Homo sapiens: one gene and its partners. The protein of the gene in region 1 interacts with the protein of each later gene in a pairwise test. Each region holds a gene or a part of one and is shown in the gene's direction. Other genes may lie near its edges.

Region 1 (5,446 bases):
AATAACTTCCTACCTCCCATTGTCTGTGGGAAAGATGTTAGTCTCTCAAATGTTATAGTAATAGTACCTTCTAAAGAGTTAGCTGGGCGTAATGGCACACACCTGTAATCCCAGCTACTCAAGAAGCTGAGATAGGAGAATTGCTTGAACCCAGGAGGTGGAGGTTACAATGAGCCAAGATCATGTCACTGCATTCCAGCCTGGGTAGCAGACCAAGACTCTATTTCAAAAAAAAAAGAGTTAGTCCCACAGATAATTGTGTAATATTGGATCATCTCTTTCAACAGTTCCTTTATGAAAGCCATATTGAATTTGTTAAAAATTGAGGTTATTGACTTTAAGGTTTTTTGTTTTTGTTTTGGGTTTTGTTTATTTTATTTTTTTAAAAAACAGGGTCTTGCCATGTTGCCCAGGCTGGACTCCAACTCCTGGGCTCAAGTGATCTTCCTAGCTCAGCCTCCTAAGTAGGTGAGACTACAGGCATGTGCCACCATGCCTGTCTCTACTTTTTAAGTTTTTTTTTTTTTTTTTGAGACAGAGTCTCGCCCTGTCACCCAGGCTGGAGTGCAGTGGCGTGATCTCAGCTCACTGCCAGCTCCGCCTCCCAGGTTCAAGCAACTCTCCTGTCTCAGCCTCCCAAGTAGCTGGGATTACAGGCATACACCACCACACCGGTTAATTTTTTTTTTGTATTTTTAGTAGAGACAGGGTTTCACCATATTGGTCAAGCTGGTCTCGAACTCCTAACCTCGGGTGATCCACCCGCCTCAACCTCCCAAAGTGCTGGGATTACAGGCATGAGCCACCGTGCCCAGCCCCTTTTTAAAGTTTTTAATAGTTTTTTTAACAGCCAGGTGTGGTGACACTTTCCTATAATCCTAGCTACTTGGGAAGCTGAGGCGGGAGGATTGCTTGAGTCCAAGAGTTTGAGACTAGCTTGGGCAACATAGATTTTGTAAGAGGCTGGGCGCAGTGGCTCACACCTGTAATCCCAGCACTTTGGGAAGCCAAGTCGGGTGGATCACGAGGTCAGGAAATCGAGACCATCTTGGCTAACACAGTGAAACCCCATCTCTACTAAAAATACAAAAAATCAGCTGGGCATGGCGGCACACGCTTGTAGTCCCAGCTACTCGGGAGGCTGAGGCAGGAGATCACTTGAATCTGGGTGCCGGAGGTTGCAGTGAGCCGAGATCACGCCTCTGCACTCCACCCTGGGTGACAGGGCGAGACTCCACCTCAAAAAAAAAAAAAAATTGTAATAGAATTTTTTAAAGTTTTAATAGTTTTAAAAGTAGATTTTTTTTTTTTTTTTTTGATATGGAGTCTCGCTCTGTTGCCCAGGCTGGAGTGCAGTGGCAAGATCTCGGCTCACTGCAAGCTCCACCTCCCAGGTTCCCATCTTTCTCCTGCCTCAGCCTTCCGAGTAGCTGGGACTACAGGCACCCGCCACCACGCCCAGCTAATTTTTCGTATTTTTAGTAGAGACGGGGTTTCACCATGTTAGCCAGGATGGTCTCGATCTCCTGACCTCGTGATCCGCCCGCCTCGGCCTCCCAAAGTGCTGGGATTACAGACGTGAGCCACCGTGCCTGGCCTAAAAGTAGATTTTTTAATTACAGTAGTAGCTATTTTTATATCTTATCAGCCAGTCAGATTCTGAGTACCTTATTTACCTGTTTTTTGGGGTTTTTTTTTTTGTTTTTTTTTTTGAGACGGAGTCTCGCTCTGTCGCCCAGGCTGGAGTGCAGTAGCATGATCCCAGCTCACTGCAACCTCCGCCTCCCAGGTTCACGCCATTCTCCTGCCTCAGCCTCCTGAGTAGCTGAGACTACAGGCACCCGCCACCACGCCCGGCTATTTTTTTTTTTTTATATTTTTAGTACAGACGGGGTTTCACCATGTTAGCCAGGATGGTCTCGATCTCCTGACCTCATGATCTGCCCGCCTCAGCCTCCCAAAGTGCTGGGATTACAGGCATGAGCCACCATGCCCGGCCTATTTACCTGTTTTATAATTAATTACCAGCAGAAATGTATCTGCTGGTTATTAATTACCCTGGGAAAGTACAGAGTAGTTTAGGAAAGCAGGGGTTTTTTTTTTTTAGATTTTATTAAACTTCATTTGACTTCTTCTTCACGAGGCGTGATTTTTTGTTGCTGTTTTTTTTTGAGACGGTCTCGCTCTGTCTCAAACCTATCATAAGATGAAAATATCATAAGTCAAAAATGCATTTAATATCCCCATAAATCCACTATAAAGTTGAAAGATCATAAGTTGATTCATTATAAGTAGGGAACCAACTATACTTAACTTTTTATTTTTTATTTTTTTTTATTTTTTTTGAGACAGAGTCTCGCTCTGTCGCGGAGGCTGGAGTGCAGTGGCGTGATCTCGGCTCACTGCAAGCTCCGCCTCCCGGGTTCCCACCATTCTCCTGCCTCAGCCTCCCGAGTAGCTGGGACTATAGGCGCCCGCCACCACGCCTGGCTAATTTTTTTGTATTTTTAGTAGAGACAGGGTTTCACCCTGTTTAGCCAGGATGGTCTCAATCTCCTGACCTTGTGATCCGCCCACCTCGGACTCCCAAAGTGCTGGGATTACAGGCATGAGCCACCGTGCCCGGCTACTTAACTTTTTAGAACCCCCAAAAACAGTTGCCCTAAACTCAGCTCAAGTGTGATTTGGTAAGGCCATGGTCTCTCCCATTTTACAAATGGGAGCACCGAGATACCCACCAAGAAAAATGAAATTCTTCCCTCACACCTCACAATACAGGTGCATCATTTAGTGTTCTGTAGTTGTAAGTCATAGAAACAGGCTCTGGCTAATACAAGAGCTGAAAGACTAAGGGGGAGAGCTGGGCGGCTTGGAAGATGCAGATGGGCAGGAATCCCTGGATGGCTTCCTCAAGGAGAAGCTACAGGAAGGATCTTGCTCAAGAGAAAGAGTCTGATTGGCCTAAGTTACATCCTCTGTTCACCCTTTTGCCAGGTGAGTGAGGGGCCACTCACTTGGCACATGGACTGGAGGAAGGGTGGTTCCCAAATGAAGAGCAAGGTGCTGTTACCCAAAGGCAGGAAAATAGATGTGGGCCAGGCCAAAGCCCACCTTTCGACTATTGTGAGTACTGTAGGGAAGGATACTGCCCCTGAGGTCTGCAGGCTTCTATATGTAAGCCAGCCAGAGGTGTCCATGAATGCAGTATCAGAAAGTCAGTCGGATCTATAAGCACCCTGTGTGCAGAGCACTCTACTAAGGGCTTTAGAGTGTACCAAGGAGTGGAGACATGCTCTCACTTCTGATTTGTGAGCTTGACAGGGATGAATGTAACCACATAAGTTAAATGTCATGTTAGACTTGTAGCCCCATATAGACAAGGATTTTAATGTCCCCAAGCTAAGACTCTGGGTGGGTGCATGTCCATTGGCCCAGGAATCCAGATGGAAACCACTTTGTGGAAATGAAATCTTGTGCCTAACATGCTCACTCTCTTTTGCCCTCTGTTTCTCTTCTTACTTACAGTGGGAACGTTATCATAGAAACAAAGTTTTTTGACGACGATCTTCTTGTAAGCACATCCAGAGTGAGACTTTTCTATGTTTGAAAGAAGAATGTGTGTACATTTCAAGAATTTGGGTTTTTTGGAGGGAGGAGGAAACTGTTTACTTTTTTCCTCCACACGTTTGATTTTTGACACATACACCCCTAATTCCCTCAACAGCAGAACCTACCTGCAGCCACCAGGGGACCAGCTCTGTGTAGGTAACCAGATGGCTCTTTTTCCCAAGCCACCATCTTCCAGCTGACCAGACTAAACTCCCAACCCCAGACCAGGGCAGGGGACAGGTCTCAAGTCCTTCCCAGCATACACACAGGGAACAAACACATACCACAAACCGGTAACTGTACCTGTCACCCTCCTTGTCTCCTCCTTGGGCCCTACAGGCTACACATCTACCTTTGGCCCCTGGTTTTGGAAAAATTCCGTGTTCCTGACCCATGTTTAGTTTTTTCCTACCATTTCTATTTCATACATTCTCATACATTTAACTTGTAAAATAGACTGTGATATTATTACATAATGTAATTAAAAATATGAATTAAAATATTCCTACAGTCTTTAGCATGGCACTGCTTTTATCTCTCCTTTTTCTGGAAAGTGAACCTGGCTGCATAATGGAAAGAAACCAAATATAAGATCACAACTGTATTTCACTCCAGGAATGGAACTGATAGATCTTGTTCCCTAGTGCCACAGTTACTGCTTTCCAAAATTGTGCAACATACTTGAACCAAACCCATGACCTTAACATTTGTCTTTTAGACACAATCTTTAATGGTTCTTTTCCACAACATACATGCACCCTTTGTTTGTTTATTATTGTTAATTTTTTCTATTTGTTTACAGTATTCATTTGTTCAAGAAGTTTCAAGAAAGGGCAATTCTAAGTTAGTAGAGTAGGGACTCTCATATTCCTAAATGAGACTAGAAGCTACAAAATGAAAAGATCTGCATGAACCTAACTGGAGAATGATGGGAAGGCGTCTGGGCTGGGAGGAGGCTGGGAGGCCTTTAAGACTGTCGTCATTGGAAGCCAGCGTGGGAGAGAAGGGATTACAACTGGCAGTGCTTTCAGGTCCGACATAAGAGAGAACACCAAAAAGTGTTCTTACCTCTGAGCTACTAGTAGCCTTCAGTGTCTTTTTTTGTTGTTTTGTTTTGAGACAGAGTCTCACTCTTGTTGCCCAGGTTGGAGTCCAATGGCGGGATCTCAGCTCACTGCAACCTCTGCCTCCTGGGTTCAAGCAATTATCCTGCCTCAGCCTCCCGAGTAGCCCGTCACCACACCTGGCTAATTTTTTTGTAATTTTAGTAGAGACAGAGTTTCACCATGTTGGCCAGGCTGGTCTCGAACTCCTGACCTCAGGTGATCCGCCTGGCTCGGCCTCCCAAAGTGCTGGGATTACAGGCATGAGCCACCGCTCCCAGCATGCCTTCACTGTCTTTTATAAAATACCAACAATTACATGTTTTCAAGTTACCAAAGCAGTAAGGTCTGAGGCCAGAGGACAGAACACATCAAAGGTATGGCTCTCTTTGGTGTAGCTCTTGCTCTCAGATTCCTCTTTTCCTTTTCTCTCTATTACCTGAGTCTGTTTGCATCTGCGGGTGGGGAGGAGAAACCGTATATTTTTAGTGTACTACCATCTTTCAATGATGATTCAATTCCTCATATTAGATCTGTTGTCTTCAAAAGCTGTTTTTTATTAATTTTATTTATTTATTTATTTATTTAGAGACAGAATCTTGCTCTGTCACCCAGGCTGGAGTGCAGTGGCATGATCTCGGCTCACTGCAACCTCCACCTCCTGGGTTCAAGCAATTCTCCTGTCTCAGCCTCCCAAGTAGCTGGGATTACAGGCACACACCACCACGCCGGTT
Region 2 (8,096 bases), on another chromosome or scaffold:
TTGACAGGCAGTAGAGGAAATCATTGCTGACCCCTTATTCTCCTCCAACCACTCTCCAAGCTGTAAATTATATATAACCTAGAAAATCACACCTATAATTATTCTGAAAATTGGTGAATAAAAGTATAAGCCTAGTGAATCCCAGATTTTTGTTTGTTTTTTTTTTTTGTTTTTTAAAAGAAAGAATGAAGACATATCAAATATTTTATGGACAGGTGCCTGGAGGTGAAATTCCAAGCGCCGGTACTCACTCTTGAGCTATCCAGGGTGCTGAAAAATCTTCCTTTGCCGTCTTGGACGGTGGTATTTTCTGTACGATATCCTGGGTGTCATCAACCTGGTCAATTTGTTAAACCAGTGCTACCTACTTTTATAAAATTAACTTTAAGATCTTAGTTACTTTACATTTGATCTAAGAAGTAAGCAATGAGAACGTCCGTAATCACAGCGTTGAATGTTTCTGTCTCCATTCGGCATTTTAAAGATAGTCTAAACTGAAAAGATAGCGCATGCTTCTGCTCTAATAGCAAATGAATATTATTGGGGATTTAAAATGGTCAAATTAATAAAGTAATGTTGATTAACATAATGATTAGCATTTTTATACAATATAAGTCTGGGTGGTTTTCCTAGTGAAAGGCCTAGACCATGGTCTTTTAAAACGACACACCAAAAGAGTACTAATTGTGTAACTGTAAACATGTGTTAGTAATGCTCTTCAAAATTTTTATTTTTCACCTTTTAAAAAATATCTGAAGTTGAGTTTAAACCTTTACATAAATATACAATTTCAATACTTCCATCAACACTGATGACAGTGCTTGCTTGTAGGTTCAATTTTGCAGGTTAGAAATTCATAAATTTTGGGGTTTTGTCCTTTAAGAGAAAGATTATCTATTAATTCTGTATTTAAAGGGTAAAATGCTGTGTCTTAACCTAGATATACTGGCAATTAGTTTAAATTAAAATAGAACTTAGAATCACAAATAAAATATAATTGAACAACTGATTTTATGAAAAAAGAAAACGAGGTCTATTAAACTTTATTAGGTCTTCCAAAGGTTAATGACAGTTATTCTTTTAACAGAAAAAGTTGTAAATGAAATAAAATATAAGCTATGTAACAGAAATAGTTATTTTCAAAAAGTACACAAAAGAATGCACAAGAAGAAAGAGACAAAGTACTCTAATTGTTCCAGCATAATGTTCAAGCAAAGATAATAGCTTGAGCCTGCTGATAGACACAATTTAATAGAATGGCAATTTCAATATTTTTAAAAATAATGTTCCATAGTTTAAAAAGTAATCAGATCAACATAACCTTCTTAATTAACTTTTCAAAATGATTAACATTATGTAATGTAATGCAAAAATAATTTATGGAAAATGTATTTACTTCACAATTCACTGTACCATTGCTCCTTGACCAAATTCAAATTAAATAGTAATTGGCTTATGTTCTTATATGATCAATACTTCATAGTTTTCTTTATAGTTAACAGACTGCCACACATTCTTTTCAGTATGTGGGCCACTGCGCTGATTAAAAATTATCTAAACATTTAATTCATTGCAATTGTATATTTTTAAAGATGCTTTTTGATTCTAGACTAAATTATCCAATATACTTATTTTTTATCTTTATTTGGTATATATCACACTTTTAAGTATTTATTAAAGCATCTCTACTCACATGGAGGCCAATTCCATGTCTGATATAGCTCCTCTTTTCTGGCCAGTGTAATAAAACCATTCCTTTTATAGCATGCCATTATTAGAAACCAATTTCAGAATTATTTATAACCTGGAATGGCTTATTAAGCAGCAATGTGAGAATCATGCAAATTATGTGATCAAATGCAATATAATAAGCATAATCATTAGTCTCTAGCATGGATTAATTAACTTTCAATATTTTATTTACATAAAAACCAAATCAGTAAAATAACTTCTGCACAGTCAGGCTTGCCTTTCAATATTTTATATGAACAAAAATAGTGTGCTGTAATTCCATTGACCGTGTCCCCCAGAATGGCCCTGTCACCTGCCACATCTTAATAGGGGGACAAACTGAGAGTATTTTCTAGTTTTCTAATGGAATGAGAAATTGCATTTTCTTCCTCTCCCAGCACTATTAAACTGTAATGAATTCGGCCCAGAGTTCACGGCTGGCTGATCGAAATGAACCTGAGATCTAGGCTTTAATACAGCTCCCCAGATTTCCTCCAAAATCTTCACATTAATCATTTGCTGGATTCCAATGAGATCTTCATAAAGCATTTGCTTCAAGGGGGGAAAAAGTAATATTCTCTCTTTCTCTCCCTCTTTTTTCTATTTCTCAGTCATTTATAGCTGGGGAATTAAACGGGCTATATATTTTAAAATACATTTACAGTATGTCTATATTACTGTAACAGCAGATATCATGAAAGTGGATTTTTAGATTCCAACCTCCATTAGATTCTCACTGTTGTATTAAGCATTTTCCAAGAAGAGCTGCATTTCAAACTGAGTACAAAGTTGGCCCGTGGCTGGGGTTAATATATTTCCTGGAGTTGTCATCTGTGCATTCTAAAAATCTCCCTTAGGTTTTGCCTGCATTTTAATCCGTCATGCTCTAGTTTTCAAGTGGAAACATTCACATTTAAAAAACATATGCATCGTAGCTTGGAACGGAGGTGCTCAGACCCCACGCAGATTTTTTTTCCCAATCCCAGTAAGCCATGAAACATAAAAAAATTTGTAGCCATCATTTGACTACTAACCCTCAAACATAATTGAGCACGATTTTCCGATTATTTCTATAATATTTAGTTCTTTAACAGCTGTTCTTTTCCGCCTGTGCCTGAGCAGATCCTAGATTCAGAAACCATTCTGGTAGTCACATTTTCTATTGAAATTCTACTGGGCAATCCTCCCCCTCTTTCTTTTTTCTGCTCCTTCCCTCACACTCCCTCTCCTCAAACAAACATTTCGGGATTCACTGGCACTTGCAGGTTGTTAGGAACCGGTCTTGATTTTATAAGACACCTTTCAAAACATAATCCCGGTGCGGCGTGTAAGGTGTGGGAACCGTTTAGTCACAGACACCGTCCCGTCTACCTCCCCCGAGTCCAGCCTTGGGTGGGTGCTGCACAGCGACTTTCGGCCTTAGGTCTTCTCGCTGTGCCTTCCTTTCCTCCTGAGAGATGCTCTCCGCCTAAGACCGCTAACAGCTCAATTGGGTCTCATTGATCCCACTCACCATCTAGAGCCCTGTTGCCTCATTAATCCGTTGTGCCACCAGCTCACGGGCTGCAACTGGGAAGAGACGAGACCTGTTTATCCATCGCCGACACTGGGATACGCAGCAATCTGCAAAATGGGGTAGAAACCACAGGAAGAAAGTGGTAGGCGACGGCGCAGGCACGGTAGAAAGGCGAGGGCCGGCCCCAAGCTGGGGGAGTATTCTAGACTGCAACACCGTTCACACTGGTAAGCGTAGAGTGCGTCTACGCTTGCCTGGGCATGAACACACCGCTGAACATTGCTGGCTCACCGAGACCGAGGGCAGGTATGTCCATACCCCTGATACTTTAGCTTGCAGAGTAAACACTAAATAGGTTAGATTAACGGATGCACAACGTTTTTTTCCACGGATATCGTGGTCAAATTGCGTTGGCCAAATTCTAAGAGGAAACTCAGTACCTGGGCTTGTCCTACATCATTTATATTTAGGCACAGTAAACGCCAGATGACCAGATTTTAAACTGCAAGTCTTCCAGGCAGGCTTGCTGGCAAATTATTATTATTATTATTGTCATTTAAAAAGATCACATTCAAATAGGGGGAGATGGGAGTTATCTTGGATTGGCAGCTTATGTGATATCTTTCAGGCAGAACTCTTCTTCTGTGATAGAGGGTTTGACATGCCTAGGCAAATTTGCCTGACAGGGTCTGTAACTCCCGGGCCACTGTTAAAAAAAAAAAAAATAGGAAGGCTGTTTTCATTTGGAGTGTATTTTATCAAACTCATTTCCCTGAAAAAGGACGTTTGGGTTTGTCTGAGCAAAATTAAATTTGATTCATATATCTCGTAGTGAAATGTGACCTCCTTTAATTCATATTGGTCCGAAAATTTGCTTTTAGTTTATAAATGAAATGGGGGCGACTTGAGGGAACTGGAGGCCTTGTTACTTGGGACCCTTGGTAAGTTCCTGAAAGGAATAGACTTTGGCTTGGCGCGGTGGCTCACGTCTGTAATCCTAGCACTTTGGGAGGCCGAGGCGGGTGGATCACGAGGTCAGGAGTTCAAGACCAGCCTGGCCAACATGGTGAAACCCCGTCTCCACTAAAAGTACAAAAATTATCTGGGCATGGTGGCGCGTTTCTGTAATCCTAGCTACTCGGGAGGCTGAGGCAGGAGAATTGCTTCAGCCGGGACCCGGGAAGCGGAGGTTGCAGTGAGCCGAGATCGTGCCACTGCACTCCAACCTGGGCTACAGAGCAAGACTCCGTCTCAAAAAAAAAAAAAAAAAAAAAAAAAGAATAGGGTTGAAGGCTCTTGGGGCAGCAGGTTCCAGCCACTCGTACAGCCCAGACAAAGGTGTCCATAGAGTGGTTTGGGAATGAGGCACGGAGAGTTGTGGCAGTAGCACGAAGCAATATGGGAGGAATCGGAAGTCATGGTGGTGACCCAAACAACACTGTAGCTCAGTGGCGTTCACTTTCCCACGCAGATCACTGTATTAACCTCTCCGCTCTGTCAACCGTAGCGTTAGGGGTTTTCCTTTGTCTTTCGATTTTGAAACTATGTCATCCACAGCCTGTCATCAATTTCCAAATTTCCAGCGTTTCTGAAAATTCTATAGCACATCAGTGTTATAAGGCATGCTATTAAGCTACATGGGTACACGTTTATCTTCATTTGTACACCTGTGGGTCGAACTTTGACACATGCCTGACTGCAGACCTGTGAATCTGTGCAGTGCACAGAATGTGCAGGGGCGTGGTGAAGACTGCACACATTTGGTGTGTTTGCACAGTGCGTAAACTCTTCGGGGCACGAGCTCTTAGGAGCGCAGGACTCCGCGCTTGGTGGGTGCAGGGGGCGCCAGTTGCCAGGAGTTGGTGGGGAGCCACAGTCTCCGGCTGGGTATGGGGGCTTGTCGGGCCTACGGCACTTGTTCCTCCCAGGGCAGAGCGGCTGTATCCGAGGCGGGTTTCTGGGGCTCAAGCCCCAACTCCCCAGCCGCCGGGCCGGCTAATAGCTCCCTGTCTGTCTCCCGCCCCGCCCGCTCCAGGTCTGGTTCCAGAACCGACGCGCCAAGTGGAAGAAGCGCAAAAAGACGACCAACGTGTTCCGTGCGCCCGGCACACTGCTGCCCACGCCAGGCCTGCCTCAGTTCCCGTCGGCTGCCGCCGCCGCTGCCGCCGCCATGGGCGACAGCCTGTGCTCTTTCCACGCCAACGACACCCGCTGGGCGGCGGCCGCCATGCCTGGCGTGTCACAGCTGCCTCTGCCGCCGGCGCTGGGCAGGCAGCAGGCCATGGCGCAGTCGCTGTCCCAGTGCAGCCTGGCGGCCGGTCCGCCGCCCAACTCCATGGGCCTGTCCAACAGCCTGGCGGGTTCCAACGGCGCGGGGCTGCAGTCGCACCTCTACCAGCCCGCCTTCCCCGGCATGGTGCCCGCCTCCCTCCCCGGCCCCAGCAACGTCTCCGGTTCGCCCCAGCTCTGCAGCTCCCCGGACAGCAGCGACGTGTGGCGGGGCACCAGCATCGCCTCCCTCCGCCGCAAGGCGCTAGAGCACACAGTCTCTATGAGCTTCACTTAATGCAGCCGCGCCCCGGCCCGCTCCGCCCCCAGCACCGCCCCGGGGGCCGCCCCGAGGCCCTTCCGGCGCGCACCCGGACCCCGGCGCCCTGCCCCGTCCCGCCCCGGCCTTCGCCCCGTCTCGTTTCGTCCTCGCCTCTCTCCTCCACTCGCTCGGGCTCACCCCAAGCCCCAGCCCGCGAGGCCTCCCCTCCGCCTGATTTCGATCGCCCGCGGTCCCCCGTCTCCCGGCCGCCCCTCTTCCCTTCCCACCCAGCTGCGCCCTCGGCTCGGTCTCCAGCGCCTCAGCCCACCCTTCCCGCCACCCTGGCCTCCCTGCTTGCGCTGGCCGTGCTCGCGCCCTCCTCCTGGCCTTCTGACGGGCGGCGTTCCCACCCACACCTTCGACGCGACGCCTACGACCCCCCTCGCCCGCCGCCTCCCCTCCGGTCCCCTCTTTCCCCACACTTCGCGACCCTCCTCCCGCGCCCGGCAAAAAGTATCCTTCCCGCCATTTTACGTACCAGGGAGTCGACTCAGGATCTGAAATCAGACACCAATGGACTGGTTTGTGGGCAGAAACACACACACTCGCACTCTCGCTCACGCTCAGACGCTACACACGCGCGCGCACAGACACGGTGCACCTAGGTCACACACGGACGTGTTCAAGGGACAGCACAATGTTAGGGATTTTTGTCTTAAAGGAGGACAAGCATTGCTACCAACCGCCTCATCTGAGGGCCCAACTGATATGATTTGATTTATCCTTGTACTCTCCAAGCTCCTGTCTTTCTTTCCTCTCCCACCACGCTACCCTTGCCCAGTCCACCCAGTCACATCCGTGCAGCCCTCTCTTGGCTTGCAAGATAACGCTTTTATTTTTATTTTATCTTATTTTCATTTTCTTAAGCACAACTGTGTGAGAGTGTAGAAGGGAAGGCTTCTCAGGAGGAACGTGACAGTGGATTGGGTGGCTGGAGTAGACTAAAGCAGTCATGTGACGAGGAAGAGGTGATCTGACCCATTTTGATAAGTCTTTATAAGGAAGAATAAAATAAACGTGTAAGCAAAATTTTCTTTTGTAAAAGCAAAAGCCACATCTCTTTTCTGGATCCTTCAGGACTGGGGTTTGTTTGCTTCCTTTTCTGTTTCTGTCTTCTCGCTGCTCTGTGCCCTTGGTTGTTTTGTGGTGGTCCTGTCGTCCCTCGTGCCCCTCGGCCACCTGCTGGCAGCCGATGGGGGCACTCGGACATCTACAACCCTGCAACTTTGTACAGAGAAACACAATCAGCTCTTTCTGCATGTGCTGGTCAAATCCAAACCCAGAGAACAGAAGCGCTTTCTAAGAATGAACAAATATGTGAAATAGGATGTTTTGTGTAGATAAAGCATTCTTGTTACATACTGGTCAATTTGTGATATGTTTTAACTTAATGTCTGTGTTTATTTATGGAATTCGGTTTTCTTAATAAATGTTTGAGCTAATATAAAGCATATTATTTGACTTTTCCGGACAAGTTTATATCAAGTTAAATGTAAATGGATAAAATAAAATCATTTTCAGTATGTGATATAGAGAATGATGGGTTTTGGTGTGACCTTGAACGGCGGGAGGGGTCTCGTGGGGGGAGGGGAGGGGCCGGTCTTGGGAATGGTTATATTCGCGCCAGTTGGAACGCGTGGGCCCTTCGCCCTGCAGTGGGCTTGGGTTCGGTTTCTGGGCTGCAAGGTGAGGTCTCCGCGACGGGGCGGCATGCTGGGGCGCCGCGAGCGCCTCACGCAAGCTCTGAGCCTCCCGAGGTTTCCGGGCCAACCCAGGTTTCCCAGGTGGGACTCCGAGCGTCGCTGTCGGCACGAAACGCAGGGCGCGAGAGTTCCTCAGATGAACGGTGTCCCTGGGGCAGTGGCGCGGAGGGCGCCCCTCGCGGGCTGCGTGCGCGTGATGGGGAGGCCGTGGGTGGGAGGGGACCACAATTCGCACCCTCGGCCTTCAGAGCCTGGAGTTCTGCTCTCCGGCGCCGCCCCAGCCGTGTCTGGCCCCAGGTACGCGGTGGAAGCTAGGCCGCGGCTCTTGCCTCCTCCGGGGCCTAGGCCTCTTTGGGGCCTTCCCTAAGGCCACGGCGCCCCTTCATGTCCCCAGACCCGGGATCCGCTTCAGATACCCGGGACCTCCCAAGTAAGGGACAAACGCGCTTCTCCAGAAGAGGCGTGTCCGGGACGACCAGCACCTACCAGGGCTCCCCCAACCCCGGGGCTGCTCTGGTTTCCTGTCAGGGTCCCTGCTGGCTGCGTACTAACCTCG
Region 3 (8,096 bases), on another chromosome or scaffold:
ACTTTTATATTTAAAAAAAATCATTATTTTGCCACTTTATCCATCTAAAATTCACAAGTGCAGTGACCAACCCCATAAAAGCCAGTGGCTACTCTTTGGAGGTGAGAAAAGAAATCTTAAAGGAAACAGTTTAGTTTTTGTGAGTGTGCCAAGTGTCCCCTGTGAAAAGATTTCAGAAAATTCTTTAGCATTAAACTGGATGGAAACAAACAGAAAAACCATCTCAAAACAAAAAACTAGCCCTCCCGAGGTAGCCTTTTTGTGTTCACCTTTTGCTTGTCGACTTTCAGAGAAAATGATGTGCCACACATTATTTTTCTCTTCCTGTCTTTCGGATTGACTTGCTTGCTTATGCATACTCTGTGTGGCGTTTATTAAAAGCCCTATTTCTGAGGAATAGAAATCAATTTATTTGCATCTGGTATCTTATTTTATTTTTAAAAAATTCCTGAGTTCTTTTACTTACCTTGCAGGGAAAAAAAATGCTCCTTTCATTCCAAGTTTGACTCCAGATTTTGCTGAATGGATTAGAGTAAGTTCCCTTTCCATGCACTGACAAGAATGATGGTGTGTGTCATTTCTTTTTAATCAGTATTTGACTTTCTTGTGTTGTTCCTGTTGGAAACTGGAAGAGAGAGCTGTGTGTGTGTATGTATCTATTGTTCATTGTTCTTTGGGCTGGATGTCGTCACTTAACCTTTTTATTTGGAGGAGAGTGGAAAGGAAGAAGGGAGAGAAAGGTGGAGGTGCTATTTTGTCTTAACAGGATTAATCCTTTTAATAAGATTGAGATATTAAAACAGATGAAGAAGCTCTACTGATCTTCGGGTCGCTGTTGATTTCTTAAAACAAATGTTCTCAGAAGTGACAGTCAAGGTGAGGGACAGGGATAGTACTTTAATATTTAAGACAGGGTTTTATTGATTTCAGTCGAGAGAAAGAATAGAAATTTGCTAATCCTAATCAATTAGATGTATCACCTGGTGCGGTGCCTGACTTGGTTTCTGGCATGTATTAATAGTTAGGGCCCGATATTTTATTTGTTGAATCAGATGAATATGAAATGGAAAGGAAAATTCTGCTTTTTTTCACCAGTTTTTAAACTGAGACAAGATAAAATCTGTTTGGATTAGGTGTTTTGTTCAGGGGAATGCAGAATGTATCCTTTACTCTTAACTTGAAGATGATCAAGATATAATCCTTTTAGCCAGGGTGGCAATTTAAACATAAAAATCTCTGTTTTCCAGTTGATGAGTGAATCTTCCTAGAAGGGCACACAACTTTTCCCCTTTCCATGATGGGGTTTAAAGGCCATGTTTACATCTGCCAAGTCTCTGGGTAAACATTTAGCTGCTGTCCCAACAGGCAGTACCAGCATCTTACTCTTTCTTCTCATAGGTAGAACTAGTAACACAATGTGCAGAGCTTTTTGGATAAGGTAGGAGAAAATAGTCAGGTTAAAATGAAAGAGAAAAACACATTTCTCGAGTTTTCCTGGGAGGTTGGACAAGATCAACTTCTAGATTCCTTTCAGTTCAAAATTTTCTGTCTTGACTCATGTGATGATTGATCTGGAATTAACCTTTTTTCCCTCTGCGCCATCAAAACAACAGTGGTAGAATTGGTTGTACTCTGTGTAATACCTATGATGATTAAATGAGATAGTGGAGGGAAAGCCATTTGTAAACAGTACGTTGCTTTTCAAATATAAAATGTTAACGTATTGTGTGGCTGGGCGAGGTGGCTCACGCCCGTAATCCCAGGACTTTGGGAGGGCAAGACAGGCGGATCACTTGAGGTCAGGAGTTTGAGACCAGCCTGGCTGACATGGAGAAACCCCATCTCCACTTAAAATAGAAAAATTAGCTGGGTGTCGTGGCGCATGCCTGTAATCTCAGCTACTTGGGAGGCTGAGGCAGGAGAATCGCTTGAACCCAGGAGGCAGAGGTTGCAGTGAGATCGCACAACTGCACTCCAGCCTGGGCGACAGAGTGAGACTCCGTCTCAAGACAAAAAAAAAAAAAAAAAGTTAACGTATTGTGATTATGTTGCTGATGTTACTTTTATACCTCCTGTAGAATGACTGTTACTGCTTAGTGGTATTGAAATACCTTTTAAACTAGTCTCAATTTATGGAAATACTGGGAGTTGTAATCAACAAGCAGGAAGTCACAAGACTCTTTTAAGAATCTTTTAAAAGCTACGAAAATAAAACCCATTTGAATAATTTATCTATTCAACAAATATTTATGGAGCCCTTACTTTCTGCATGGCCCTGAAAGTCATGCGGGATGAACCCTCAGCTGTAATATCCTCCTTGACTGCAGGACTGGCAGTCGTGTGGCTCTAGAGGAACCTGTGGCAGGACAGGTTAAGTAAGGCACATAGGGGAGGGGGTAGCTTCTGATGTGCTTCTTTGCTTTCTAGTACATTTCTCTCATTTTGTGTGTTTTATTGTGAACTAAAATATAAACTTAGACTTGAAAATGTGACAAGTAAAAATGGTTGATTAGTCTTGGATGCTAATTGTCAATTAATATTCATTGCATTTGTTTATAGTAGCCTCCACCCTCCCATCCACGGTTTTACTTTTCAAGGTTTCAGTTAACCATGGTCCACCGAGGTCTCAAAATAAGTGAGTAAAGTACAATAAGATATTTTAAGAGAGAGAGAGACCACATTCATATAACTTTTATTACTGTATATTGTTATCATTGTTCACTTTTATTATTAGTTATTATTAATCACTTACTATGCCTAATTTACACATTAAACTTTATCATAGGTGTGTGTGTATAGGAAAAAATATAGTGTGCTCTGTGCTATGTTAGTTAGTTCTATGATAGCTCAGTACTATCTGTGGTTTTAGGTATCCACTGGGACTTGGAATATATCCCCCATGGATGAGGGGAAACTACTGTACCGTGTTGGGGATTTTTTATTTATTTATTTTTTTTTTGTGACAGAGTTTTGCTCTTGTCATGCAGGCTGGAGTGCAATGGGGTGATTCTCCTGTCTCAGCCTCCTAAGTAGCTGGGATTACAGGTGCCCACCACCATGCCCAGCTAATTTTTGTATGTTTAGTAGAGACGGGGTTTCACCATGTTGGCCAGGCTGGTCTCAAACTCCTGACCTCAGGTGATCCACCTGCCTCGACCTCCCAAAGTGCTGGGATTACAGGAGTGAGCCACCGTGCCCTGCCAGTGTTTGGGATTTAATAAGATTAGATTTGATAGGTTAGTTTAATAAGATTTCTTTGTATAGACTGGTGGACTTGACCTATTTAGTTTCTTGGTTATAGGCTGTATCTGCCATCATAAAAATGTATGTCTCAGTGGGGAAGATGTGGTGAGAGAATTGGGTTGATCATCACAAATCTGTCACCATTTGCAGGATAAAAACCAGCTAACTAACCAACAATAGAAACCCATGATGTGCTACAAAGGGTAGAGCCCACAGGCACTATGAAATTGTAAAGGATCCTACTTGAAAAGAGGAGTGAAGGTACATTTGTGATTTCATATTATGTTCAGTTATCTGTGAACTGAACTTCTTTATTGATAAAAAAAAAAGTACATTGTTTCGTTGTTTTTAACCCTGAATATCTATGAACATTGTAAGTTGTATTTATTGTGACTAACTTTAAAGTGATAATGTAGGTCACTTTTTAGTCTAAATGTCGAGTGGATTAGGCAGTCATATTAAATATTCCTTTCTTAATAATTTATAAGATAAAAATTATCTGAGCACAATAAACAGATCTACCATATATGGAGTTCATATAGCAAAAATGTTTTGAGCAAATCCGTACCATTAGGTAGGAACTTTTCTACAAAGGTGTTAAGTCTGGTTCCCAAACTTCTGTGGCTCCAGTCTAACAGTATGAGCCCTAGGAGAGGACACATAGGGACCTTGATTCATGCCCTCCAGGGGCTTGCATTCTGAAAGATGCCAAAGCCACATGCTTGTTGGCATGTGGGCAGTGCTCAGGTCGGGGGTGAGAGGAGATAAGTATATGAGTTATAATCAGGAGGGCAAAATCAGTTAACATTTATTGAACACTTACTCTGTGCCAGTGTTCTAAGTGCTTTGCATGTGTAATAGCATTAAACTGAGGCTCAGGGAGGTTGTGTAATTTCCTCAAGTTCACACAGCTAGCAAGTAGTTGAACTGCGCTTGTGGCCCCAGGGCCCTCCCTCTTCATTGCCTTCCACCTACAAGTAGTTCCCTTGTGCTAGGCAGAGGCTCAGGCAGCTTGGTGTTAAGGCAGTTGGGATGCACTCAAAATTTTTAGTATATTGCTTCTTAAGTAAACAGGTACAGAAAAGTGGTCCTTGACCACTACTATGTTAAAGAAAGCAGTGGCCATGAGCAGGCAGGCTGATGCGCCCTTGTCCCCAAGGACTCTGGCAGGTGATTGTTACAGAGAAGGCTGGCTAGGAAGAGAACTATGTTGTGTGCTGGGAACTCCTGCCTTACAGTCTCCATACCCTGGTCATAGCCACTGAGGTGATCTTCAGCATCTAGTGTTCCACCAGGTGACCACATATAGATTTTCAGGCAACCTCCTTACTCAGCCCCCTAGTGTCACTTTTGGGGGCACATTCCTACCTGCCCCAAGCCCCAGTTTTGTTTTGTTTCGTTTTTCTTCCCTCCCTTCCCCTCCTTTCCCCTCCCCTCCCCTCTCCTTTTTCTTCTTTTTTTCCTCTCCTCCTCTTTCTTCTTTTTTTCCTCTCCTCTTCTTCTTCTTTTTTTTTTTTTTTTGACAGGGTCTCACTCTGTCATCCAGGCTGGAGTGCAGTGGTGCGATCTCCTTACTCAGTCCCCTAGTGTCACTTTCAGGGGCACATTCCTACCTGCCCCAAGTCCCAGTTTGTTTGTTTGTTTCTTGCTTTTCTTGGTTGCTTGCTTGACAGGGTCTCACTCTGTCATCCAAGCTGGAGTGCAGTGGCTTGATCTCAGCTCACTGCAACCTCTGCCTCCCGGGTTCAAGCAATTATCCCACCTAAGCCTCCTGAGTAGCTGGGACTACAGGCGTATGGTTAGTTTTTGTATTTTTTGGTAGAGACGGGGTTTCACCATGTTGCCCAGGCTGGTCTCAATCTCCTGACCTCAAATGATCCACCTACCTCAGCTTCCCAAAGTGCTAGGATCACAGGCGTGAGCCACTGTGCCCAGCCCCATTTCTTTTGAAGAGGTACTGAGACTGTGCTATGTTCTTTTGCCACGCACTGCCTGGGAAGTCAGCTGTTCCCAATAGATACTAGGCCATAAGCAGCCTGTTGCTTATGGACTTCAGCTGGGCAAAATCTCCTGATGGTATTAACTTTATAAAAGGATTTATTTCTAAGGTAGACTAAAGAGAAGGAAAGCTTGTTAGGGAAGGTCTCATAACTATTGTAGGTGACAAGAAGTGGGAATTTCCTCTGATACTTCCCACAAATTAAATTATTGAGGGGCTTTTGTTTTGGATCCTGCAGCCCCCTGTGTTATGTTGTGGCTCTCCCCTGTCATCTCCCCAAATGTCCCAATGTCCCAGGTGTTTGGATGAGTCTAAGAAGCCCAGTTCTGGTTGACCCTCATTTTCCGAGTGTCTGTAAAGTACCAAGTCACATCTACTTTTAGCAGGGCTGGCTTCCCAGCCATGCAACCGCTGGGTTCAGAAGAGCCCCATGCCTGGTTTACTGCTCTTTGGTCCCCATCCTGGAAAAAAAAAAAAAAAAAAAAAAAAAAAAATCTTAATTTTAGAACAGGTGCTTTGCGTTTTCATTTTGCACTGGGCCGCACAATTTATAAGGCCAGTTCAGATTTCTAGCGCTAAATACATGGCTGGCATCTGAGTCTGTAACCTGCATCATTGCTGGTTCCCTGACCGTCTTAATCACCATTTTATCACTGGAATCTAGTCTAGTGTCTGGTAAATACAGGACTGTGTACCATTTACAGTGCTGAGTGTTTTCCTTGGATCACCTAATTTAATCCTCCCAACAGTGCTGTTAACCACAAAGACATAGCAACTTAGAAAAGAGGAAACTTGAGACTCTGAAAGGTTGAGTGTTGCCCAGAATTGCATAACCAGTGGAGGGTCAGGGTCAGGATCAGTGTATGAGCTTGTCTGATTCTAAGCCCATGGCCATGAGCATTCTTCGGTGCTGCTTAACTATTATAATTAATAATTGTTGAGAGGATGAGTGAGAGAGACTGTGTGAACCATAGATAACAATTCTGGAAATTGAGGGGTCACTTGATTGTTTCTGTCACCTGGTTGCCTGTGAGAGGCCCTCTGGGAACTCAGTGACAGTGCAGCTCCCACTGGGAAAGTTGTGTGGGTTTGTGTTTGAGGCGGGAGTCTGCTCACTGATTTTGCTTTCATTGATTACCCACTCTCTCCTTCAGTGTGCATAAAGGTAGGTGTTCTGCCCTTTGGCTCATAGAGCCAAGCACTCCTACATGATTTTGATAGTAGCTCACCATCTGAAAAGTTGCATTTGCAAGCCAATCTCATTTATCAAGTTCCTCTGTACCTAGATTTGCTGGGAACTGTTTTAACCTCTGGACTGCTGCTTTCAGAGTTGAGGACTTATCCCACTAATTATGTCCATGTCTCTCCAAGAGGGATTCCCTTGGGTTCTTTTTTCAACAGGAGAGCTGCTGCTCTGGCCTCTCTCTCTCTTTCTCTTGGGGAAGGGAATGACAATCTGGAGGCACTCCAGGACCACTGATTGAGGCATTGGAGGTCTATACCCGTTCCTAATCAGTATAGACATGGAGTCAGGAGCTAAACAGAAATATAATTCTTTCAGAGTTTTATTTCTAATTATGAATTATTTTAAGCATTCAGAAAAGTACAGAAAATAATATAACAGACTTCTGTGTACCTGCCTTCCTGATTGAACATTTTGCCATTTTGACTTCAAAATTCTGGTGATCTTTAAATGAAACTAAAGACTCCTGTTCCCTGCACGCTTCCTCCTCCACCCTTCTCAGTGGTGACCACTATCCCGAGGTTAGTGAGTAACAGTCTCATGCATGTTTTTGGCTTTTTATCATATATGCATGTGGGTGTAAACCATATATAGTATCATTGTGTGTGCTTTAAGAATTTTACCAAAATTGTAACATAATGCTCTATCTTTCTAAATTTGCTTTTTTCCCTAAAAAAAAATGTTGAGTGAATAAGACATTAGTCTGCCCTCAAGGTACTTATGCTCCTGTACGATGAAAAATAAACAATTACATTTTGGAGTAGCATAGTCTATCTGGAGGGAAATAAAGACGGCTAGAGTAGCACATGAAAGGCAACCTAACCTAGATTTCAGGGCCAAAGAGAACTTCCCAGAGGAGTCTTTTAACATCTGCAACATTAAAGCTGAGTAAAGTTGGCCCAGTGACAGGCAGGGCCAGGGCCAGGCAAAAGGAATAGCTGTGCGGAAATTTGGGGGTGAGTAACCCCATGACTTCAAGGGACTTCAGGGGTTCTGTGTTTTTGGAGCAGGGTTTGGAGCAGTGCTAGAAATGAAGCTGCAGAGCCCAGCTAGGGTCATGGAAACTCTGAAAGTTTGCCTGCAATGACATGGTCAGATCTGTCTGCAGTGCAGAGAAGGATTGGAAAGGGAGGGAAGACTGGAGCAAGACTAGTTAGGAAGATGTCCTGATCCAGAAATGAGATGATGGTGTTCACAACCAGGAAGGGGCAGGAGGGATGCATAAATGTAGATGGATTTAACAACATTTAAGAATTGCCAGAATTTTGTAATTGGATGTGGAAGATGACAACAGAATAGATCTCAGGGATAATTCTTAGGTTTTTGGTTTGAGCATTGTTTTGGTTATCTGAGTAATGAACCACCTTAAAACAATAGTTTAACACAATAACAATGTATTTTACTCGTGAATCGGGGTTTGACTGGGTTCAACTAGGCAGTTATTGTTCAGGATCCCTCATGAAGTTGTAATCAGATGGAGGGTGGGGTCACCTCAAGGCTTCATACACATGCCTGGCATCTGAGCTGGGTACATTGCAACAGCTGGGTGCTGGACAAGGGTGGCCCCCTGGGGCATCTCTCTTCATGTGGTCTTTCTATGTGATGGCCTCA
Region 4 (9,057 bases), on another chromosome or scaffold:
CCCAGGCCTGGATCAGGTACAGGATCTTGTTACGGACGTTTACCTCCACTTGTCTCTGCAGGCAGGGAGAAGGGGGTGAGGGTCGCAGGACACTCCAGGCGCCAGAGGCCTCGGTGTGAGGAAGCAGCTGGCAGACCTCAGCCTCTGAGCAGATGGGGCTGACACAGAGGCCAGGGAGGGCCCCCCGAGTGGGGCGTGGGGGCCATGCACCAACCTGTTCCCAGACCCTGAGTTCAAACCTCACGCCTGCCTCTACTTGCTGGAGCCAAACAACGCCGCGTCTCTGTGCCCCTGACCATCTGTCTCTCCCTTTCCCCACGGGACCTGCCCACCCCAGGATCCCCGGTTCCCGTCAGCCTCCAACAGGCAGGACCCGGCAGGCCTGACGGTGGCAGCGTGGTGTTGGGGCTGAGAACACAGGGGTACTGCGGGGCTCTGGCCACGCCCCTCCTTCCAGTCACAGCCGGGGAGACGCGGGGGGCAGCCGCTCCAGAAATGCCTCCAAATTCAGAGCGGGCTCCAGACCCCCTGCAGCCATCCTCTCCCCCGGTTAGAGCGCAGCCTGGCCTCGCGTCTACGGCCCTCTCGGGGACGCCGTCCCGGTGTGACGTGCAGGACGGCGTGCGATCAGAGGCTGCTGCAAGCAGGCTCCGGGGCACTTGCACCTCAGCCTAAGCTCCTTTCCAGAACCCCTCTGCATCCTCAGCGGCGCCTTCCCTTCACAGCCCTGCCTCACCCCAGAGGAGCGAACCGGCTCAGGATCTGCAGCCTGACTGAAGGAGCTCAGGAGCACCAGGGTCGGGCAGGGCCAGACTCCGGCACCTTCCGCCTCTCAGCCAGGACAGGACGGGACAGGAAGCCAGCCAAAGTGGCCAGTGAGGGCCTTTGAGAGGCCTGGCTGTCCACCGGGATCCCCGGGCAGGTTCTCAGCTGTGTGAGTCCAGGGAGTCTCCTATGAGACCCAGGTCTGGCCCACAGGTTGGGACAGAAGGGGAGCAGCCTGACTACATGGGACACTCTTTCTCCTTGACACCTGCAACAGCATCCCCACTGCATCACAGTCCACATCACAGTCCCTGCAGGTGTCCCCAGCACAATCCCTGCAGATGTCCCCGGCACAATCTCCTGGGGATCTGGAGGGCTTTTCCTCCTCTGCCCAGGAAAGCATGAAGCCCTCGCTCTCCAAAACAGCTCTTATCCCCGCCAGACACATCCGATCTTACAAGCCCCCGCTCAGAGCCCTCCCAGGCCCCTGCCTGTGGGATGTGGCCAGCCTGCCCTCCGGACCACAGCCACTCTCACACACGATAGCCACCACCTGCCCTGCCCACCCAGTGGCATCTACTCACCTTCCCTAAGACAGCAGGTGCCCAAGCCCTGCCTCCCGGAAGCTTCCCCCAGGCCCCAGGGTCGCTGTCACCTTGGTCCTCCAGACACAGCACCCCAGGCCGGCTCCTGCTAAACCCTGACCTCCCTGGATTGGGGCTCACGGCCCTGTCTCTCCGACTCATGAGTGCGAGCTTGCGCAGTGCAGGGACCACCGATCTGCACCTGCACATTTTCCGCCACACCTGGTGCTGTTCTGTCATCAGTGCCCAGTAAACACCCGGAGAAGCAAAGGTGCCAGCCTGGGTGGCCACCCGCATGCCCCCGTCTCACCCACCTTCAGCAGGTCCTTCAGCTCCTCCATGGTCTGCTTGTTGGCCACCTCATCATGAACTGTCTGGCCACAGTTCTTTACCACAGATTCCATGACCTGCAGATGCCCAGGAAGGGAAGGGTTGGGCCAGTGGTCAGGGCAGGGCCCCTCCTCCTCCCGGACAGACCCACCTCCCTGTGGGACAGCAGAGCCCTTCGACAGGCCCGTCAGTGGCCGGTGGGGAACCCGGTGGGACAGCAGAGCCCTTCGACAGGCCCGTCAGTGGCCGGAGGGGAACCCGGTGGGACAGCAGAGCCCTTCGACAGGCCCGTCAGTGGCCGGTGGGGAACCCGGTGGGACAGCAGCCCTTCAACAGGCCCGTCAGGCCAGTGGGGAACCCACATCTGAGACTCAGCAGCCTGCACAGCACCGCTCCGTGACGCCAAGTCTCACTGCCAAGCACAGCAATGACATCCGCCTTCTGGTGTTTACTCACGCAGGACCGGCTGAAGAAGTGGTGCCCACTCCCTCCCCTATCTCCTGTCTCTCCCTCAGCGTGACCCTCTCCTAGGTGGCACTGTTCACACAGGCACTCAAGGCTGAGTGGAAACTCTCCTGCTTGATGTATGCCCAGGGAGGTGGGCAAGGCCACAGGACAAACTCTTCTCATGCTGTCGTGACTAGTAGGGGGTAGGGACCCTGGGGGCCACTGAGGCACGGGGGTCTGCTTACCTCCAGGGCATACAAGGCGACGTGTGGGTTCTTGTCGTTGACTTTCTTCTTGATGGAATTCACAGCATATTTTGCTCTGAAAAGGAAACATTGATAAAAGCAGAGAAAAACGGGAAAAAAATAGTCTCAGCAACTAAGATGAGAAAAGCTCATCTGCTGCCAGGTGCAGTGGCTCACGCCTGTAATCCCAGTGCTTTGGGAGGCCAAGGCAGGAGGATTGCTTGAGCCCAGGAGTCTGAGACCAGCCTGTGCATTACGGCAAAAACCCATCTCTACCAAAATACAAAAAATCAGCCGGGCGTGATGGTGAATGCCTGTAGTCCCAGCTACTCAGGAGGTTGAGGTGGGACGATCGTTTGAGCTTGGGAGGCAGGGGCTGCAGTGAGCTGAGATCACGCCACTGCACTTCAGCCTGGGTGACAAAGCAAGGCCCCGTCTTAAAAAAAAAAGTCTGTCTGCCATCTTAGTCTTTGAGAACCCCGAAGCAAATACAAACATAACCAGGTATCTGCAAGCTGTACAGAGAAAACCCCTTAATCCTCCAAGATGTCAAAAAATCCTAGCATGTAGCCCATGCAGTTCTCCACATAAGAGCCTAACACGGTCAGCTACGTCGTGGAGACCCAACGGGCACCAAGCGAGCCCAGCTTAGTGCACGGCTGCTCCTCCGCATCAGGGCACAGGCCCCGCTAACTCACTGTGTGTCCCCTTGGCGGATCAGGTCGCAGATCTGCAAAATGGACTCCCAATCTGTCTCCAACAGGAGCTGGCTGGTCGCCTTGTCTGAGAGAGAAAATGCCATGAAAGGGAGGGGTTATCCTGCTGGACGCCCCGTGCAGCACCCCAGCTTGGCAGCAGCTGGGGGGGACTCTCTCCTTCCCCTTTAGACATTTGGACCAAATGAAAAAGCATGACAGAATCCTCCTGAGCGTGCTGATGGGCAGGGAAGTGCCATCCTCCCCAGGGAAGCAGCAAACAGCGTAAGAGCACACCAGGTGCTGGTCCAAGCCCTCCCACAACCCGCGAGCGAGGTAAAGACACTCAGCAGAGAGGCGAGGGCACTGCCGTGAGTCACACAGCTCACCAGAGACAGAGGCTGATTCACTCTTAAACATCAGGCTCGGCTGCTTCTCAACAAAGAACCCTATCACCCGTCCCTTGGAGTCCCCGTTCGCCCAGATGCTCCCGGTTTCAATGGGACCTTAGCTTGGGCAAGGGCTAGAGAGGCCTGCAGTGTAGACTCCAGGCCCCTTGCTCCAAGCCAAGTGCTTTGGAAATAAGGGCAGAACGGGGCTCCAAGGAGGACTCGCCAGCATACCTGTCATCATACCACATCACTGCTGTCTCCAACAACTGGCCCCTCTGGGGGGGCAGCTCCAGCTCTGCCCACATCGCCTTTCCCGGATACAGAAACGATCTAACAAGCCAAGCCACGTCCACTTTCTATACTGATTCAGTAGTTAACCTCTGGATTCATCCCTGAAGCACTGAACTACCTGTGTGGCTGAGATACTCAGTCTGCTTGCTGGTTCCCTTGGCAAGGAAGGTGTCTCACTTGAAGTCTCCTTGAAAACCCTACTTGACAAAAAGGCAAGCTTGGGCAGCCCATTCGACCACCCAAGCTCCTACCCCCAAACATTAGACGCATTTTCCACGTGCTGCTGGGCACGTGCACATCAACATTCGTTTCCCTCCCAAAACGCGTCAATTCCAGGAGGCTCAGATAGGATCAGCTTTCACCTCCAAAAACGTGAGAAAACGCCTTCCTAAACCATTAGGCACTTCCCGAAGCCAGTGTGGGAACAAAAGGTGGGTCTGGGACCCGCAGCCCCCAAGAGAGCTCGAAGGTCCCAGAGAGAACACTGCCGGCTCCACCCTTCGAGGCCCAGTGTTTTGGGTCAGAAGCCCAAGTGCGAGCCTAACATCCGACTGAGTCACCCACTTTCATGACTCAGGCCTTGTGGCCCACTCGGCCGGGTGCTCGTCGGTCAAGAGGAAATCGGCCGAATGCCCGGGCCCGCGGAGGAGCGAGGTCGCCGAGCGCCCCTGGCGCCCTGCGCGGACCCTCGCAGAGCCCCATTTGCCAACGCCCGACGGACGCCGACCCCACGGCCGCGCCGAGGGTCCAGGATCGGCGGCTCCGAACCCGGGAGGACAGCGGGCCGGGGAGAGGCGGGCAGGGCGGCCGGTCCGCGCCCCTCGGGCCCTCGGGGCCGCGCTGACTCAGCGCCGGGCGGAGGCTGCGGGCTGACCAAGGCCGAGCCGTCGGGTGGGGACGCGTTACCTAGGAGACGCTCGAAGGTGCCGCTGCCTCGCCCCATGGCGACCTCCAGCCCAAACCCGACGCCGCGGGCGCTCCCCTGCTACGAGCTGGCGCGCCCCCCGACTTCCGCTTCCGCCTTTTCCCTCCAGTGCGCGCACGCGCACGTCACCGCGCCGGCCCTAGAGCCGCGAGGAGGCGGGGTCTTCCGCTCTCCCGCTAACGCTGCGCGCTAATTGGACGCGCCCTTGGAACAATGAGCCCTAAGAACCAATGAGAAGTCCGAAGGTGAGAACTATCCAATGAGAGTGGCCGGTGGGCGGGCCTTGAGCCGCGGCGCCGAGCTACGGGTGCCGGGTGGAGCGAAGCACGGAATGTGTCTCCTGCTGGGGGCCACGGGCGTCGGGAAGACGCTGCTGGTGAAACGGCTGCAGGATATCCTTCCGCGCGGGGACGGGACCGGGGCGCGGGGGGCACCCGGAGTGGGGCGGGGACTCACCCTTTAGCTGCTCGGGTCCTTGACCGCTTCGCACAGGTGAGCTCCCGGGATGGGAAAGGCGACCTGGGGGAGCCGCCCCCGACACGGCCCACGGTAGGTGTCCGCCCCCGCGGGTGGAGTTGCGGGGGGTCAGTTCTGCGCTTGGCGAAGAGCTCCGGGCTCCTCTAAGTGCACGCCGAGGCGCAGCGGGTCAGGTCGTGACTTAAGGCCAGCCTTCGGGAGCGGGGGACGGCCCGAGCTGAGGATAATTGGCGCGGGATGAGGGGGCCTGCCGCCCTCCACGGGCACTTCCTCTCCCCTCGCAACGGCTTCCTGTGGCTGGTCGCCCCCACAGCGAGTCCAGCTACTGATGGGCGTCGGTCCCTGCTCGCCGTTCCTGCGTTAGGGAGAATGGGTCTGCGGGGTTCAGGCCACCGTGTAAGGTGTGGGCACGGTGCTCTTCAGGAGTTCACAACGGGACAGCGGTTGTATTGTTCTTTTTGCATCGTGGTTTTTCCTATAGGTGGGCACCAATCTTACTGACATCGTGGCACAGAGAAAGATCACCATCCGGGAGCTTGGGGGGTGCATGGGCCCCATCTGGTCCAGTTACTATGGAAACTGCCGTTCTCTCCTGGTGGGTTGTAATCCTATATGGGCTTCCTTTAGGGAAGTGTGTCTACATTTCTGTGACGTCCAGTCCCCAACCTTGCTGTGTGTAGAAAGGGGTTTGGGTTATTTAGTGACTATACTACTCATGGAAATAGGTCTTAGCTAGTGTTGCTTCCTGCTGGGCACCCTGTCTGGTTTCTGGTGCTTGCGCTCCCAGGCCCCCGGTAGGAGCTCACAGAGGGCTTGCTGAGGGCAGGGCTGCTGCTCCGCAGAGAACAGACTTGGCCCTCTGTGTCACTCCCCGGTACGTCTGTGTTTATGTTGGACTTATACGTACCTCTGGTTGGTCTCATCTTGATAAGGCCTGTGCCGCGGATACCAGTATGGAGAACTGATGGCCACATGAGGACAGAGACGAGTGACACCAGGTCGTCTTCATAAAACTCGATTCCCTCTGCTTCTGCTTGTTCCCAAAGCTTTGTTTAAAGCTACTTTGGGCCGGGCGCGGTGGCTTACTCCTGTAATCCCAGCACTTTGGGAAGCTGAGGTGGGCGAATCACGAGGTCAGGAGATGGAGACCATCCTGACTAACATGGTGAAACCCCGTCTCTACTAAAAGTACAAAAAATTAGCCAGGCGTGGTGGCGGGTGTCTGTAGTCCCAGTTACTTGGGAGGCTGAGGCAGGAGAATCACTTGAACCCTGAACCCTGGAGGCGGAGTTTCAGTGAGCCGAGATCGTGCCACTGCACTCGGAGCGAGACTTCGTCTCAAAAAATAAATTAATTAATTAAAAAATGCAGTTTTGCTCTCCCAGTGCCAGGTCTGTGAGGCCCAGGGGAGGAAGTTTGGCAGCGGGGCATTGCTGCTGTCTTTTTCTTTTTCCCCAGTTTGTGATGGACGCCTCTGACCCCACCCAGCTCTCTGCATCCTGTGTGCAGCTCTTAGGTCTCCTTTCTGCAGAACAACTTGCAGAAGCATCGGTGCTGATACTCTTCAATAAAATGTACGCGTCCCTGAGCTGAGAGGGAGCACAGCGGGGGCGGGGGCTCCCTCGGGTTACAGCCGGAAGCATGGCTCGGTAGGGAGGTGGTGCAGCTGGGGGTCCGGGGCAGGTGTGTGGCTGCCACTGCTCTGATGGGGCACCTCTTTCTCTCCAGCGACCTACCCTGTTACATGTCCACGGAGGAGATGAAGTCATTAATCAGGCTTCCAGACATCATTGCTTGTGCCAAGCAGAACATCACCACGGCAGAAATCAGCGCCCGTGAAGGCACTGGCTTAGCAGGGGTGCTGGCCTGGCTCCAGGCCACCCACAGAGCCAACGATTGACTGCACGGCAGAGGCGCAGCTGGCCTGAGCTGGGGAGAGGTGGCAGAGGGCAGTATGGCTTTGCTGCCAATAGTTTCTTCTCACAGGGGCAGAATAACCCAAAGTAACCCTACATGATGGGGCTCTGTGCTGAGATGCAATGATGTGTAAACTGAGGCATGTGGAGATGGAAGTTGACATCTGGCCTCTGAAAAAAGTGTCCCCAGGGGCTAGGCATGGTGGCTCACACCTGTAATCCCAGCACTTTGAGAGGCCGAGGCGGGTGTATCACCTGAGGTCGGGAGTTCGAGACTAGCCTGACCAACATGGAGAAACCCTGTCTCTACTAAAAATACAAAATTAGCTGGGTGTGCTGGTGCATGCCTGTAATCTCAGCTACTTGGGAGGCTGAGACAGGAGAATCCCTTGAACCTGGGAGGTGGAGGTTGCAGTGAGTCGAGATCATGCCATTGCACTGCACCTGGGCAACAAGAGTGAAACTCCGTCTTAAAAAATATAAGAAATAAAAAAATAAAAACCTGTCCCCAGACTGGATGAGCAGGGCCTGCAGATGGCCGAGTGTTCTGTATCTTAGAGTGGTGCTATTGGGGTTGGCTCACCTCCTTCCTGGAGACCTGCTGGACTGCCCCCAAGGCGTATGGACTGCACAGTGCCACTGAAACCTGGCCTCTTGCTGTAGCACAACCTCCAACCTGCTGAGCCGCTGGTACCCTGACCCTGCATCTGCCACAGACGGCATGAGGCAGGTGAAGTGAGTGTGGTAGTAAGAGCCAGGCCTCGAGTTAGAAACAAGCTGGTGGCCGGACGCAGTGGCTCACGCCTGTAATCCCAGCACTTTGGGAGGCTGAGGCAGGCAGATCACCAGATCAGGAGTTCGAGACCAGACTGGCCAACATGGTGAAACCCTGTCACTACTAAAAATACAAAAAATTAGCTGGGCGTGGTGGCTTATGCCTGTAATCCCAGCTACTCGGGAGGCTGAGGCAGGAGAATCGCTTGAACCTAGAAGGCAGAGGTTGCAGTGAGCTGAGATCGCGCCATTGCACTCCAGCGTGGGTGACGAGCAAAACTCGGTCTCAAAAAAAAAAAAAAAAACAAGAGCCAGCATTCTCACTGGTTCACTTGTTCAGTGAACAGGTATTGCCGTGAAACGCCCCACAGGTGTGCCAGGTGGGGCTCAGATGAAGCACAGGAAATGGTGGCCGTGCCTCCCATGGTTCCCCAGTGCCCTTCCTTGACTTTGGTTCTCAGCCATGGCCACTTGTGGGAGTGTTGATTGACGGGTCAGTGTCCTGCAGCTGCCAAAACAACACAAATTTGCTCTCTTAGTTCCGGAGGCCAGAGTCCAAAGCTGGGCTTTCACCAGGGTAGTTTCCTTCTGGAGGCTCCGAAGGAGCATCCGTGCCTTGCCTGCGTAGTGGCTGCGGTGCTCCTCGGCGCCCCTGGGCTGTGGCCTGCAAAGCCTGTTTCCACCTCCACCTTCACGCAGCTTCTCTCCTGTGCCTCTGTGTTCTCTTACAAGGACATCTGTCGTTGAAAATCCAGGATGATTCCTCATTACATCTGCAAATGCCCTATTTTCCAAACAAGGTCACTCTTGCTTGTTCCAGGGGTTATAATTTGGACACACCTTTTAGGGGCCGTCATTTGACTACAACAATTGAATAAGAAACCCTATAGTCCTGAGAATAGATGTGAATTTTCTACAGATGTTTTCCCAGCTGGCAGCCTAGGCTCCTTCGGTCATGGAAGGAGCCTCGCACCCACCACCCTCCTCCGTGGCACAAACCTGCTGCACTTTGCTTGTGGGGAAATGGGTCTTTATTCCTGTGGAGGGCTATGTGCGATGCCTGGGAAAAGCTCGCAGCACGGCGTGTGCTTCAGGGTGGCTCGGGCTCCAGTCTCTGCTTTCCAGTGTGTCATGGGCTCTCAACTGTACACAGCCTGTGCCCTGTTGGATGCCACCTTTTTTTTTTTTTTTTTTGAGACAGAGTCTCACTCTCGCC

What was found.
Region 2: the proteins of PDE6D (region 1) and OTP interact in binary tests that used the Homo sapiens proteins (3 or more experiments, as listed by UniProt).
Region 3: the proteins of PDE6D (region 1) and ARL15 interact in binary tests that used the Homo sapiens proteins (3 or more experiments, as listed by UniProt).
Region 4: the proteins of PDE6D (region 1) and ARL16 interact in binary tests that used the Homo sapiens proteins (3 or more experiments, as listed by UniProt).

Annotation. Positions count from the first base shown.
Region 1 is NC_000002.12:231,731,113-231,736,558, reverse strand, and holds the end of PDE6D (retinal rod rhodopsin-sensitive cGMP 3',5'-cyclic phosphodiesterase subunit delta), read left to right. Parts: intron 1-3,525; coding exon 3,526-3,607; 3' UTR 3,608-4,126; downstream 4,127-5,446. UniProt on the Homo sapiens protein: Promotes the release of prenylated target proteins from cellular membranes. Modulates the activity of prenylated or palmitoylated Ras family members by regulating their subcellular location.
Region 2 is NC_000005.10:77,627,981-77,636,076, reverse strand, and holds the end of OTP (homeobox protein orthopedia), read left to right. Parts: intron 1-1,616; exon of another isoform or gene 1,617-3,354; intron 3,355-5,282; coding exon 5,283-5,813; 3' UTR 5,814-7,365; downstream 7,366-8,096. UniProt on the Homo sapiens protein: Probably involved in the differentiation of hypothalamic neuroendocrine cells.
Region 3 is NC_000005.10:54,300,324-54,308,419, reverse strand, and holds part of ARL15 (ADP-ribosylation factor-like protein 15), read left to right. Parts: intron 1-473; coding exon of another isoform or gene 474-532; intron 533-8,096.
Region 4 is NC_000017.11:81,679,702-81,688,758, reverse strand, and holds ARL16 (ADP-ribosylation factor-like protein 16), read left to right. Parts: upstream 1-4,961; 5' UTR 4,962-5,005; coding exon 5,006-5,066; exon of another isoform or gene 5,067-5,164; coding exon 5,165-5,223; intron 5,224-5,632; coding exon 5,633-5,746; intron 5,747-6,083; exon of another isoform or gene 6,084-6,516; coding exon of another isoform or gene 6,517-6,609; coding exon 6,610-6,725; intron 6,726-6,879; coding exon 6,880-7,051; 3' UTR 7,052-7,572; downstream 7,573-9,057. Other genes in the region: HGS (hepatocyte growth factor-regulated tyrosine kinase substrate), read right to left, coding at 1-55, 1,664-1,756, 2,372-2,447, 3,070-3,154, 4,656-4,692. UniProt on the Homo sapiens protein: May suppress the RNA sensing activity of RIGI in a GTP-dependent.